Linked DNA regions of Homo sapiens. The protein of the gene in region 1 interacts with the protein of each later gene in a biochemical or structural test. Each region holds a gene or a part of one and is shown on either strand. Other genes may lie near its edges.

Region 1 (3,500 bases):
GTGATGTGGAAGGGAACAAGACAAAGAGGAGTCTGGCGTGGCCAGGGTGGAGAGGCATGGCAAGATATATTTTTTTCTTAAAGCTTTTTGATTAGGTAGAATACTAAAAGGACAGTCATAAATATAGTAGGTTATCAAAGGAGACTAACTTTTTCAATTGAACATTTGTGTTTTTATTTCTTATCTTATGGCCTGTTGACTTCCATAGCCCATTGGTTCTGAATCAGAAATACAGAGTAGTTTAGGGATTTGCCCAGTGTGTAAGGGGGAAACCAAGTAGAACAAGTCCACCTTTCAGGTCAGTGCCCATGTATTTAAGGGCTCGGGCACATAGAAGGCAGTCTGCCGTCCTCAGGAGAGCATGGGGGTGCAGGCATGCCTGTCTGCTGGGAATATTCACGGCCCCTTTACTCCTAGAAAAGTGGTAGTTGCTCACATAGGGCTCTCTAGTAATAGTAATGTATGGAATTTTTATGTAATGTATATTATTTTTATTTTACTTTGGATTTAAGTTTAAAATTTCATAATGCTATCTTTTGTATTTAACAATAAATCACTTCATTGCTGTTTTCTGTCTTCTATATTTACCATTCAAGGAACAACAGCTAAAAAAGATCACTGCAAAACAAAAGCATCTCCAGGCCATCCTTGGAGGAGCAGAGGTGAAAATTGAACTAGATCACGCCAGTCTGGAGGAGGATGCAGGTGAGGATGCTAGGAGCAGTTTCTCTGTGTTCTTGAATTGATGCCTGATGCCTGTAGTCAGTGGAGGGTGTCTCTTTAGTCTTTGCCTGGGTTTTGAGAAAAATACGTTTCTTTGCCTTAGTGTCAAAACAGATTTAGGAAAATTTTATTCTCTACACCTGCAGAACCAAATCCCTCTCAAAGAGAATTAAAGTAAACTTTTAACTCAGTTCATAGGAGGCTGCTGGTACACATTTATTATTACATTTAATACACTGGAAATCTTAAACATTCTTATTTTGTTAATTTGATAAAGACAACTAGCATCATGATTAAATTACATGTTGGAAGCCCAACATCATTAATCGCATTTGTAGAATGGCTCTCACGTGTCTTTAAAGAGCGTATTTGGCAGGCTTTCCAAGCATCAGTTTAAGAAAAGACATCTTCATTCAGGTACTCTGGGCAGTATTTCATTTACATTACTGTCTTGGATGGTTGTCTTTTGGAAAACTTTTTGGGAAAATTCGTAAGCTCTGGAACTAAATTATCTTTGCAGTCATTGTGTGTGTGTATGTGTGTGTGTGTGTACAAATTGTTGGTGGCTGCATAGGCATTGACTATTTGAAATACAGATTAAAGCTGCTTAGCATTAAATTCTCTAAGCAACTATTTTCTACTAGCTTTAGAAGTTTATTCAGTAAGATGAGAATTGTTATGAAGAATTAATTGAAGCAATAGAAAAAAATATGTATATTTTTGAAACAGAGTTTCGTTCTTGTTGCCCAAGTTTGGAGTGCAATGGCACCATCTCAGCTCACTGCAACCTCTGCCTCCCGGGTTCAAGCGATTCTCCTGCCTCAGCCTCCCAAGTAGCTGGATTACAGGCGCATACCACCATGCCCAGCTAATTTTTTGTATTTTTAGTAGAAACAGGGTTTCACCATGTTAGCCAAGCTGGTCTCGAACTCCTGACGTCAGGTGATCTGCTCACCTTGGCCTCCCAAAGTACTGGGATTACAGGTGTGAGCCACTGCACCCAGCCCAAAAGTACGTGGTTTTAAAGTTCAGCCTCTCAGAATTCATTAGGCCTATGACCAGTGCTTTTAACTGCTGTGTACTATGTTTCTCATTGATAACAGATGTTTGTTCCTGTCTGGCCGTCTCAGATCTGCTGTTGTCTTTCACCTCCTACTGTGACTTTGGTAGTAGGGTTAATAGCTACCTCTTAGGGTTAATAGCTAAAACTTTGGTAGTAGGGTTAATAGCTACATTGTCTAGGGTTAATAGCTACCTCCTCAAATCCAAGAGCCCCTTTTTATCCTTGTTCCACTCTGCCTGTCCACAGCAGCTGACACTTCTGTTCCTTGTGGGATCCCTGCTTCTCTACTGGTTTTCTTTTTAGCCCTCTGACTACTTCTGCATAGTTATTTCTGGCCATATCTTAAATATTGATGTTTCTCAGGATTTCTTTGAGCCCTCTTCTTGTTCTACTGCCTCTCCCTGGTTATCTATTCCCCATGGCTTTTGCAGCCACCTAGGTTCTACTAGTACCTTATACAGATCTGTAGACATCTGGCTTTGCTCTTTTTTTGAGTTCCTGGTTCCTATTATATCTCTCCGTCTGGACACCAGCCAACACTTGAAGACATGAACTGAAATTGGAAGTTACACCATAACTGTAAAGTCACCCAGAAAGTATCCCTCTTTCATTAGTTGAAATTCATCTCCGGCAAAATTACCACATAACCAAAATACCAAAAGACCTAAGGCTTAATAGGAAGCAAAATACTCAGTGTAAAGACCTAAGGCTTAATTGAGGCAAAATACTCAGTGTAAAGGAAAAGATTTGTTAAATGGACTATATATAAAACCAAGAACTTCTGTTCATCAGAAGATAGCATTTAGGGCAAGATACTGAGCTGGGGAAGATATTTGCAATACATGTGTGAATCAAAGGACTCAAATCTAGGATGTATAAAGAACTAGAAATCATTTAAAGAAACAGACAAACAAAAATGGGCGAAAGACTGGAACACTTCCTACACAAAAAAGGCTATCCAAAAGATAAATTCATGAAAGGCACCTATTTTGTTAGTCATCAGGGAAATGTAAATTATAGCCATAATGTGGTACCACTACACATCTACCAAAATAGCTAACATGGAATGGCAAGAATATACACCAGTTGGAACTTTCTGACACAGTTGATGGGGACTTTGGAACGTAACACTTTGGAAAACTGACAGTGTCTACTAAAGCTTAGCATACCCAGATATATATATATATATATATATATATATATATATATATATATATAAAAATATATAAATATATAAATATATAAATATAAATAAAACCAAAAGATGTGCATCAGAATATTCATAGCAACATTATTCCTAGTAGCCAAAACCTGGAAGCCACTCAAATGTGCATTAACAGTGAGAGTTAACAAACTACAGCTACATTCAACAGTAAGGATGCAGCTCAAAAGCATAATGTTGGGTGAAGGAAGGTGGACACAGGGCACAAACATTTCCACTTACGTAGCGTTCAGAGACAGGCACAACTTGTCTGTACGTTAGGAGTCCAGGTCCATCATTATCTTGGGGGGCGTAGAGGCTGGGAGGTAGCCTGAAGGGCTCATCTGGTGGTGCTAGTAATTCTGTTAGTTGATATGGCTGCTAGTTTATGAGTACATTTTTTCTGAATATTCACTGAGTTCTACACTTAATGATTTGTGCACTTTCAGATGTATGTTTTATTTCAGTGCAAGTTTAATGAAAAACTGGGTATCATTGGCCTGCAAGAATTGT
Region 2 (3,500 bases), on another chromosome or scaffold:
CTCAGCCCTGACCTCTTCGCTGCAGCGTGAGGAGGGATGCAGCAGCTCCCCAGCCTCCACGTGCGCCGTGGCCAGGCCCCAGGCCCCTTACCGTAGTGCTTGTCCTGTTTGTAGGTCGGGCTGTAGCCAGGCTCACAGATCTTGCTACACTTGGGGGTATCTCCCTCCCCCGTGCATGGGGGCCGGGAGCCGTTGACGTGGTGCTCACAGGGAGGGATGGAGTACGGTCTGCACCCTGATGGGACGCGGGAGAAAGCGGAGTCAACCTACAGCCCCCACGGAGAAGACCTGGGGCAAGGCAAGCCTCGTGCCTGCAGCATGGACGCCAGGCAGGTCCTGCCAGAGGCCTGTGCACCTGGCTAGCACCTCTCAGCAGCCCCTCTGTCTCAACCCCCAGTTTATAAAGGCAAATAAAGCCATGATGGTTAATTGCTCAAACAATCCATCTGGCCAGAAAGTGGCCAAGGGGACACACTTACCTACATGGGATTCATAGAGGCCACCAGAAACCAGGCCTTTTCTTGTCCAGAAGTTCCAAGCTTCAGCAGGATAGCCACCATTACAGCTGAAAAGACAGCCTCTAATGAAAACCTCTGAGAGAAGCACCACCAGCTCTCCAGACCACTGTGTGCTACCCAAGTGCCCGAGGCCACTCGTGGACCCACCCCCAGCTGCAGCAAGTGGTGCGAGCAGACCTCCCAGACCCCAAACCCTCCAAGGGACGCTCCCTAGATAAGCACAGCTTGCAGGGAATAACCGCCAGCCCCACCCCTGCCCACAAAGATCCGGGAGAAGACAGGAGGCTCTCCTGTTCATGTCCATACCAGACCAGGCTACGAGTGCCCTTCCGGGTAGAACACTGATTCTCAACTGAGCAGACGCTAAACTTCCCTAAGGTACTTAAAAACACCACCAGTTCTCTGAAATGAGAATCGCCAGTGATTCCCATTTAACTAGTTAGGGGAGAAGCCCATGCATTTTTTTAAGCCCTCAGGCATTTCGGATCTGCAGCCGCCAGTGAACACCGCTACTGCGGAACCAAGGCGAGGCTGCAGGCAGCTGGAGCAGAAAGTTCTGTGCCACCACCTTGTTGTTAAGGTGGAGCCATCCCCGCTAACTACACATAAGGAAATGCCCCAAACTGGTTCCCCAAGCAGGAAAAAGGAACATGCGATGACACAAACCAGACCAGGGGCCAGACATTCCACCACATTTTCTGAAACTGACTGTTTTGCTGGGATGCCACCCCTCAGACAGCTCTGCCGGGCCAGCCTTGGTTCAGGCACCTCCCAGGAAGCAGCAGCCTTGCCAGGCCCTGCCTGCCAGACTCTCGGAGTCTCCCCGAAACACTTCTGACTCGCAGCAGTCCCAGGAAGTCCTCAAAGTCCCCTCCACTGAGAAGCTGGGGCCCAGGGTCTCTCAGCACTAAACCCGCTGTGGAAGCACAGCCTGACTCACCCGTCCCCACACATGCTGCCACAGCATGTGAGCAGGTCCTCCGCCGACACCTCCACGCTGACGTGCGCATTGGTGTGGATGCAGATCCGGTCAGAGATGGCTTCCACAGCCCCGAAGGCCTGCAGGAACGAGCCCCACCGGGTGAGGCTGCCATGTCCGGGCTGGGCCCTCTGCAGCAGTCCCCTCAAAGGGCCACAGGGGCACCTCAGACCTTGTAGGCAACTGATCTCTCAACACCAGGGGACGCTCCTGGGGCTCAAACTCAGCTTTTATTTTCTTTGGTAGAAATGGGGTCTTGCTACGTTGGCCAGACTGGTCTTGAACTCCCGGGTTCAAGTGATTTGCCCACCTTGGCCTCCCAAAGTGCTGGGATTAGAGGCGTGATGAGCCACTTGCCCCACTCTCCTGCCTCAACGATTTGCCCAACTCAGCTTTTAAAGCAAGAGAAGCACCCCCGTGAACCTCTGCCTGGAAACTGGGTTCATTTCTGAAATCTGCAAAATGTGTAGTATTAGTTTGTATGTGTGTGTGTGGTTTTTTTTTTTTTTCCTGGAGGCGGAGTTTCACTTTTGTTGCCCAGGCTGGAATGCAGTGGCGCAATCTCAGCTCACTGCAACCTACGCCTCCTGGGTTCAAGCAATTCTCCTGCCTCAGCCTCTATAGTAGCTGGGATTATAGGTGCCTGCCACCAGGCCCAGCTAAGTTTTGTCTTTTTAGTAGAGACAGGGTTTCACCATGTTGGCCAGGTTGGTCTCAAACTCCTGACCTCAGGTGATCCGCCTGCCTCAGCCTCCCAAAGTGTTGAGATTACAGGCGTGAGCTACCGTACCTGGCTGTGTTTTTTTCTTAACAAAAAACACAGCTCACCCAGAAAATAAATACTGTTGTGATCCACTTGTATGAGGTCCCTAGGAGTCAAATTCATAGAGACAGAAAGTAGAGTGGGGCTTACCAGGGGCTACAATATTGGTGTTAATGGGGACAGAGTTTCTGTCTTGCGAGCTGAAAAAGAGTTCGGGGGACAGATGGTGGTGGTGGCTGAGCAACACTGTGAATGTACTTAATGCTACAGAACTGTACACTTGAAAATAGTTGCTGGGCACGGTGGCTCACGCCTGTAATCCCAGCATTTTGCGAGGCCGAGGAAGGCAGATCAACAGGTGAGGCGTTTGAGACCAGGCTGTCCAACATGGCAAAACCCCATCTCTACTAAAAATACAAAAATTAGCTGGGCGTGGTGGCACATGCCTGTAGTCTTAGCTACTGGGGAGACTGAGGCAGGAGAATTGCTTGAACCCAGGAGGCAGAGGTTGCAGTGAGCCAATATCCCACCACTGCACTCCAGCCTGGGTGACAGAGCAAGACTCCATCTCCAAAAAAAAAAAAAAAAAAAAAAGAAAGAAAAAGAAAACAAAAGAAGATTGCTAAGATTATTACATTTCTGTTACGTGTATTTTACCACAATTAAATGACAAAATTAAGACAGCTCACTGACACTAAAGGGATGCTTTCTTGAAGCAGAGTAGCAGTGAGAGCTCCTGGTATTTGCGGACGGGCCAGCATGTCAGGGAAAGGGAGCTGCTTCGCCACCTGTACACGTGGACTTGCAATCTGCTGGATGCTCTGCCCGCCACTCCACCTAATCCTCGCCATCATTCATGGCCAGAGGGATTGTGATTTTTGTACTGATGGAAACTGGGACTCAGAAAGTTTCTATAACTTGCCTTGTCAGAGTTGTCCCCACCCCGAATCCCCCAAGACTCTCCAGTGTTGCTCCCACTTTCTCTCCAGCGCTTCCCCGCCAGCCAGCAGGGCCTTACCCAGCAGGAGCCACAGGAGCCCTGGTCTCTGATCTCTTTGATGGTGGGACACTGTGGCCATTGTTCCCGTGCATCGAAGCTTGCAGGCAGCTTCAGGTCCTCGGTAAACATAACTCTGGATAAAGGAAGGTCTTCATTACAAGCTCTGATCCCACAACTCCCTCCCCAATCCCTGCAAAGGCCACTTTGGCTGGGCCACACTCCCCTAACAAGGAAATGAGC
Region 3 (2,920 bases), on another chromosome or scaffold:
CTCTTTGCAGGACCCTCATCCTTCTGGATCTGTGGACAACCAAGTCTCCTCTTCCATGAGCTGTAAGCACTAGGAGGGGCTAATGAGTGCTGCTGATTAAGTTGCAATTTATTGGAAAACTACTATGTGCCAGCCAAGTACTTTACGTAGATTCTTGTTTTTCACTGAGAACATGCAAAGATTTTATTTTATTTTATTTTATTTTTTTTAGACAGAGTCTCACTCTTTCCCAGGCTGGAGTGCATTGGCCCAATCTTGGCTCACTGCAACCTCCACCTACTGGGTTCAAGTGATTCTCGTGCCTCAGCCTCCCAAGTAGCTGGGATTACAGGCATGTACCACCACACCTGGCTAATTTTTGTATTTTTAGTAGAGACGAGGTTTCACCATGTTGGCCAGGCTGGTCTTGAACTCTTAACCTCAGGTGATCCACCCTCCTCAGCCTCCCAAAGTGCTGGGATTACAGGCATGAGCCACTGTGCTCGGCCTTTTTTTTTCTTTTTTTTTTTTGTGTAGTGACGGGGTCTCACTGTGTTGCCCAGGCTGGTCTGGAACTCATGGGCTCAAGGGATCCTCCTGCACTGGCCTCCTAGAATGTTTGGATTACCAGGGGGAGTCACCACAGCTGGCCTCTTTTTTAAAAAAACATAGATTCTTTTTTTTTTTTTTTTTTGAGACGGAGTCTCACTCTGTTGCCCAGGCTGGAGTGCAGTGGTGCCATCTCGGCTCACTGCAAGCTCCGCCTCCGGGGTTCACGCCATTCTCCTGCCTCAGCCTCCCGAGTAGCTGCGACTACAGGTGCCTTCCACCACGCCCAGCTAATTTTTTGTATTTTTTAGTAGAGACACGGTTTCATCATGTTAGCCAGGATGGTCTCGATCTCCTGACCTCATGATCCACCTTCCTTGGCCTCCCAAAGTGCTGGGATTACAGGCGTGAGCCACCATGCCTGGCCTTAAACTAGATTCTTAACGCAACTTTCCATGAAAAACTGAAGCCCAGAGAGGATAACTTACTTATGGTTCCAGAGCAGGACTTAGAACCCATAGAACTCACTCACTCTATTCCACATTGAGTGACAGGCCAGATGAGAGAGACCATTTCACCAAAAGGATCCAACTCACAGCTCACAGCCCTACCTGGAGAACCCAGGATCAAAGGGTCACCCTCAGGACCAGGCTGAAGGAAGGACGCACAGGAGGGTTTACCCCTGGCCCGCTTCTGCGGCTCATACCACAGTCCCTCCTCACCACAAAGGCCAGACATTCTGTTCTGGGAAACCTGTCTCTGGCTGATCTCTCACCTTTCCCAGGGCCCTAACCTCTCTCCCCATCCTCTACCTGCCGACCAAGCTTTTTAACCTCATCCCCTGTAGTCTCCCACACCAAAATGCCCCAGGGAGAGGAAAGATGAGCCACTCCTTTAAAGACTCGCCATCTCTTACTCACTTATTTTGGTAAGGGCTTTGGGGAGCCAAGAATTGTCAGTTCCCTCTACTTTGAGCCTTCTGTTAGCTTCCAGTGAGACAGCGTGGCTTGGTGATTAGTTTTGGGGGTTTTATTTTATTTTGTTTTTTCGGTAGAGACAGGGTCTCTCTATGTTGCCCAACCTAGTCTTGAACTCCTGGCCTCAAGTGATCCTCCTGCCTAGGTCTCTCAAAGTGCTGGGATTACAGGCATGAGCTACTGCACCTGGCCCTGGTTTGGTGGTTAGGATCTGACTTTAGAGTTGTATAGACCTGGGGCCAAGGCCAGTCCTGTGTCATTACTCACTACTTGTGTGATCTTGGGCAAGTGACTACCCTTCTGTGCCTTCATTTCTTTGGTGGAAGATGGGGAAAACCAGAGTACATTCCCCAGAGAGATTTTGTGAGGATTAAATGAGACAGGGAAACTGAGACTGAGGGAGTAGCTGAAGGGAACCCTCTTGTTCCTGTTCTCTCCCAGACAACATAAGCGCCCCCTCTATGCATGTCAGCAGGTGGAGACCCCCTCACCATTCCGTGTGCGCACCTTACATGTTCTTGCCTCCGCCTCCATCCTTGCTCCTGCCACCCCCGCTACCTGGAATGTCCTTTCCTTCCTCTCTGCCTCTGCCAGTCCTACCCATCCTTCTAGGCTAATATGCCACCTTTTCCAGGAAGCTTTCCCTGATCTGGAAGTGACTGTTGTACCCTCTGGGCCTCCCGTGGGGCTCCTATCACTTTCAGCCTTGGGCAGTAGTCACCTGTAGCCTACCTTACCCCCTCCTAAGCCTGTGCTCTCCTTTCTGGCAGGAGCTTCTCTGCACCCTAGCACTCCTGGGCGGGGTCGGAACCACTGCAATGCCTCTGTGCCTTACCTGTTCACAAGGCCTTCGACGTACCCCTGGAGGCGGCCCCAGGGCCCGGATGACTCCTGGCCGGGGTTGTGGGGGGCTGTACTGAGGGTAGGTCAGAGGCCTGGGGTAACTGCTGGGCCCCAGGAAATGAGGCTGTACCATCCACTGCAGCTCCTGACTGCCACTCATGGTGTTGATGCTTGGCACCAGGTGGAACTTCTAAGGAATAAGAAATGGAAGGCCACAGATGAGGTCCGTGTGGATTGAGGGGCTTCCACTGGGCAGAGGCTACACTGCTGTCTACCTTCAATGTACAGGCTAGCTCTGGGAACAGAAAGAGCACAGCTTGGCAGTCAGAGACTGACCTGGTGGCAAATCCCTGCTCATAAGCTGTGTGGCTTTGGGGCAGGTCACATAACCTCTCTGTGCCCCCATTTCCCCATTAGAACTAACATTTATAAAGCACAAACTGCCAGGAACTGTTCTAACCACTTTACAAATACTGACTCATATCATTGGCACAGTAATATCTTCATTTTCTTTTCTTTCTTTTTTTTCTTTTTTTTTTTTCAGATGGAGTCTCACTCTGTTGCCCAGGCTG
Region 4 (4,205 bases), on another chromosome or scaffold:
TTTTAATCCTGTATTATTTCTTCTACTTTGTTTTGTGTAAAAGGGGAAAAAATAAAAAAAGCTGGAATCTTCATGTCTCACTTTCTTTATAACTTAGCCAATATAATATTTATGATTGGATTTATGAATCTGATTAATGAAGTACCCTGTGTGGTCCTTAGATGTCTATAAGGTACCCTACCTGTAATCCCACCACTTTGGGAGACCTGGGCAGGAGGTTCACTGGAGTCCATGAGTTTGAGGTTGCATTGAGCTGAGTGTACCCCTGCACTCTAGCCTGGGCAACAGAGCAGGACCCTGTCTAGGAAAAATTTTAAAAAAGAACAAAAATAAAAGGTTTAAGTTTTATTTAGCAAATATCCAGGTACCATGCTAGAGGGAAGAGGAAATGCAACGAATGAGCAGGGGCATTGACGTGTGAGAGAGGACGAAGCTGGAAGAACCGGCAGGGACAGAACTGGCTAAATGGTGCCTGTGTGGGCACCTCGTACCCCAGGGCCTTGCTAGCGTCTGGTACATGGGTGCTCAGTAAACAACTGTTGGGTGACTTTTGTCTGAACTTAACTTTTTAATTAAAAAAAAATTTTTAGCCGGGTGTGGTGGCTCACGCCTGTAATCCCAACACTTTGGGAGGCCGAGGTGGGCAGATCACTTGATGTCAGGGGTTTGAGACGAGCCTGGCCAACATGGTGAAACCCCGTCTCTACTAAAAATACAAAAATTAGCCGGGTGTGATGGCGGGCGCCTGTAATCCCAGGTACTCTGGAGGCTGGGGCAGGAGAACCGCTTGAACCCGGGAGGCGGAGGCTGCAGTGCGCCAAGATCGCGCCACTGGACTCCAGCCTGGGCGACAGAGCGAGACTCCTTATCAAAAGTAAACTAAAATAAAAATTAAGGCCCGCGCGGTGGCTCCCGCCTGTAATCCCAGCACTTTCGGAGGCCGAGGCGGGCGGATCGCAAGGTCAGGAGATCAAGAACATCTTCGCCAACTTGGGGAAACCTCGTCTCTACTAAAAATACAAAAATTAGCCGGGCGTGGTGGCGCATCTCTGTAGTTCCAGCTACTCAGGAGGCTGAGGCAGGAGAATCACTTGAACCCGGGAGGCGCAGGTTGCAGTGAGCCGAGATCACGCCACTGCACTCCAGTCTGGGCTACAAGAGCGAAACTGTCTCAAAAAAAAAAAAAAAATGTAGACGAACCTCCAACGAACGGCTCACCTTGCCTCTCCCAGGCCCCACCGGGGGAGGTCGATTCCATCGACTCTCAACTGCCAACCCCTGAGGAGGCTCCGCCTTTCCCTCACCCTCGTCCTTCTCCTAGGCGGTCCTTGTTTTTGCCGGGCCTTTGAAAGTCTCGCGATAGCTCTCCCGCTTCCCATAACTCCGTGCGCTCTCCCCTCCCGTCCTCTTTCCGCCATCTTTCCGCGCCGGTGAGTAGCACTCTCTGAGAGCTCCAATTTCATCCGTCTGCCATCGGCGCCATCCTGCAATCTAAGGTTCGGTCTCGGTGTCCTGCGAGGAGGCTGGTCCCCACCTTGGCCGAGGATCCTGGCCTTGCCGGTTCCTGGACAGGCATAGAGGAGAGCCATGGCTGGGCGCCCCAGACTGTGCACTCAGGGGATCCCGGTCCGTGGGGTGCAGGCCGCAGCGCGGGCGGGAGCCGGAGCCTTCGACTGCCCAGCTAGGCGGTAGCTCCGGTTCGGGCCGCAGCGTCTGGATCTCCCTTTAGTGCTGAGGCAGCGCCTTGGCCCCGGGCGGCGGGCAACATCGGGGCTGGTGGGCCGTGCAGCTTCTCACTGCTGCGGCCGCGCTGGGAGCTTGGGAGGCTGAGGCCACCCAGCAGGTAAAAGCTGCATCGTGCCGGGGTTGGCAGTTTGCTGGGTGCCAACTTGGATCTTCTGGGCCGCAGAGTTTTTCTTTAGACACTTTTGAACTTAAGGAATTTAAGTTCTACTCTTTACTATTGGCACTTTGGTCTTTCAAAACTTCAGTGTAGTGTGCGGTTCTTGCCCATTAGAAGAGAGTCCAGTCTGACAAGCATGTAAAATGTTTCTGTTTGCCACTGTGGCTCTTGCTGTTGGACGCAATTTTAAATGGCACGAAGATGGATGTTTAATAGTTAGATGTGTTCATTGTAGGTGAGAGTGAACTGATTTAAAGTACAATGTTAATAGTATGGAATCTGCTGATTTTCAGCAATTTGGAAAATGTTGCCGATGATACTCTGCTTCTGTTCTGAATCACTGATCGACTATACCCGATGTTTTCCTTCCGGTAGCTGGCAGTTTCTGCCAGTTCTCACGTTGTCTTGTGTCAAGTGGATTTTGTCCCACATTTTATTATCTCCAGACGTTGGTGTGTGGCACGATTCGAAGAAGAGTGGTTAGTGAATGAATGAGTTTCAAAATGTGCAGGCTGACGTCCCGATAACCTGTTTTCAACAACCGTAGTAAATAGGAATTTTCCTGGGTGGTGGGAAATGGAGAAGCAGCCTGCTTAGACTTGAGAAAACTTCGCCAAGGTGGGGCCAGAAAGGAAAGGATACTTCCGCAGTGTAATGGTTGGTGTCTGTTGATGTTGGCAATGCCAGTAAAACCTCCTGTTTTGTCTTCCTTGAACAGCCACAATGGTGCGCATGAATGTCCTGGCAGATGCTCTCAAGAGTATCAACAATGCCGAAAAGAGAGGCAAACGCCAGGTGCTTATTAGGCCGTGCTCCAAAGTCATCGTCCGGTTTCTCACTGTGATGATGAAGCATGGTAAGTCTGCTGCCGCTGTGTTTTATGTTTTCATGTGAGACTCTCTAAGAAATCAGTCCTGTAGAAATTAATTATGGGGGACCAAAGTATGTCTGTCATACCTGAGAACGAATGCAATTGACCTGTGGGCTGTGGAGGAGGGGATAGTCTGAAACTGCTGAAGAGTCACTTAGAGTAGGACTGCTGGAAAAAGGAGCTCTGCTAGGTGTTTGGGAGCTAAATGAATCTAAGTCATTGAAAGGACTCCTGAGCTCATTTCGAGACCAGCCTGGCCAACATGGCAAAACCCCGTCTCTACTAAAAAAACAAAAAACAAAAACAAAAATCAGCCGGTCGTGGTGGCAGGCGCCTGTAGTCCCAGCTCTTTGGAGGCTGAGGCAGGGAGAATTGTTTGAACCCAGCAGGTGGAGGTTGCAGTGAGCCGAGATCGGCCACTGCACTCCAGCCTGGGCGACAGTGCAAGACTCCATCTCAAAAAAAAAAAAAAGAAAGAAAGGACTCTTGAGATCTTCTCAGAGCTCTTTGAGAGGAAAGATTGGATTATTGCACTTCTTTGGCACAAAGTAGTCTTTGGGAATGGGAAGCAGTGAAGGAAGGGTCAAGGGGAAAATAGTTTCTTTCAGAATTGCAAGGTGGATTGTTTTGGGTATTGTCTCCCAATTCTTATATGTTAGGTTGTAAAAATTAGTTCTGATACAGAGCAACTGTCTTCCCCCCAACTTTTTGGAGAAGCAGTCACTGAGGTGATGGGAGAGTGAAGAATTGAGTAGGCTAGAGCACAGAGGTTTAGCTCTCAAGTTGATGTCTTTTATTTAATCCAGTCAGTTATCTTTTGTAGGTTACATTGGCGAATTTGAAATCATTGATGACCACAGAGCTGGGAAAATTGTTGTGAACCTCACAGGCAGGCTAAACAAGGTAAGAACGAGTGATCTACACATTTCAAAGCTTTAAGAATTTTTTACTGTGGCGTTAAATGTTGTAATTGCCTTTGGAAATACTGAGTAGTGGTGCCATACTTGATTTATCCAGTTACTTTAAAAAGGTTTAAAAATTGACACATGGAACTTCATTTGCTCTCCTGGGTTGATTGTGCTAGGATTATGTCAGTTGACCTAGTGTTTTTATGGGGTATAAGCTGTCTCAGGAGAGATGGGGGGTGAAACCAACGCTGGTACTGGTATTTGGATGTTAACGCTACCCACCTCACTGGCTTGAACTTGGGTGGCTCAAGGCCATTGAGCCTTTTGTCCAAGGTGCTGTGTCCTTCCTCTCAGTGATGTGTTGGGTTTTTTGAATGGAATCTTTATCTTTGAGTAAATGGGGCTTTCTAAATAGCAATATGAATACTTTTTCTGTTTTTGCTGGCATAGGTCTTTGGGGTCTATGCTGCTTTTCAGTTTGACTTGTCAACACCTTAACCAAGTAAAACTGACTTTGTGGTTT

What was found. The genes of interacting proteins can lie anywhere in the genome.
Region 2: the proteins of ERCC6 (region 1) and CTSB form a complex in vitro, tested with the Homo sapiens proteins (one large-scale study listed by BioGRID).
Region 3: the proteins of ERCC6 (region 1) and FOSL1 form a complex in vitro, tested with the Homo sapiens proteins (one large-scale study listed by BioGRID).
Region 4: the proteins of ERCC6 (region 1) and RPS15A form a complex in vitro, tested with the Homo sapiens proteins (one large-scale study listed by BioGRID).

The regions. Positions count from the first base shown.
Region 1 is NC_000010.11:49,525,622-49,529,121, reverse strand, and holds part of ERCC6 (DNA excision repair protein ERCC-6), read left to right. Parts: intron 1-596; coding exon 597-705; intron 706-3,500. UniProt on the Homo sapiens protein: Involved in repair of DNA damage following UV irradiation, acting either in the absence of ERCC6 or synergistically with ERCC6. Involved in the regulation of gene expression.
Region 2 is NC_000008.11:11,847,588-11,851,087, forward strand, and holds part of CTSB (cathepsin B isoform 1 preproprotein), read right to left. Parts: intron 3,394-3,500; coding exon 3,279-3,393; intron 1,578-3,278; coding exon 1,459-1,577; intron 566-1,458; coding exon 480-565; intron 236-479; coding exon 92-235; intron 1-91. UniProt on the Homo sapiens protein: Thiol protease which is believed to participate in intracellular degradation and turnover of proteins. Cleaves matrix extracellular phosphoglycoprotein MEPE. Involved in the solubilization of cross-linked TG/thyroglobulin in the thyroid follicle lumen.
Region 3 is NC_000011.10:65,894,469-65,897,388, forward strand, and holds part of FOSL1 (fos-related antigen 1), read right to left. Parts: intron 2,539-2,920; coding exon 2,341-2,538; intron 1-2,340.
Region 4 is NC_000016.10:18,787,535-18,791,739, reverse strand, and holds the start of RPS15A (small ribosomal subunit protein uS8), read left to right. Parts: upstream 1-1,405; 5' UTR 1,406-1,496; intron 1,497-2,621; 5' UTR 2,622-2,626; coding exon 2,627-2,759; intron 2,760-3,597; coding exon 3,598-3,677; intron 3,678-4,205.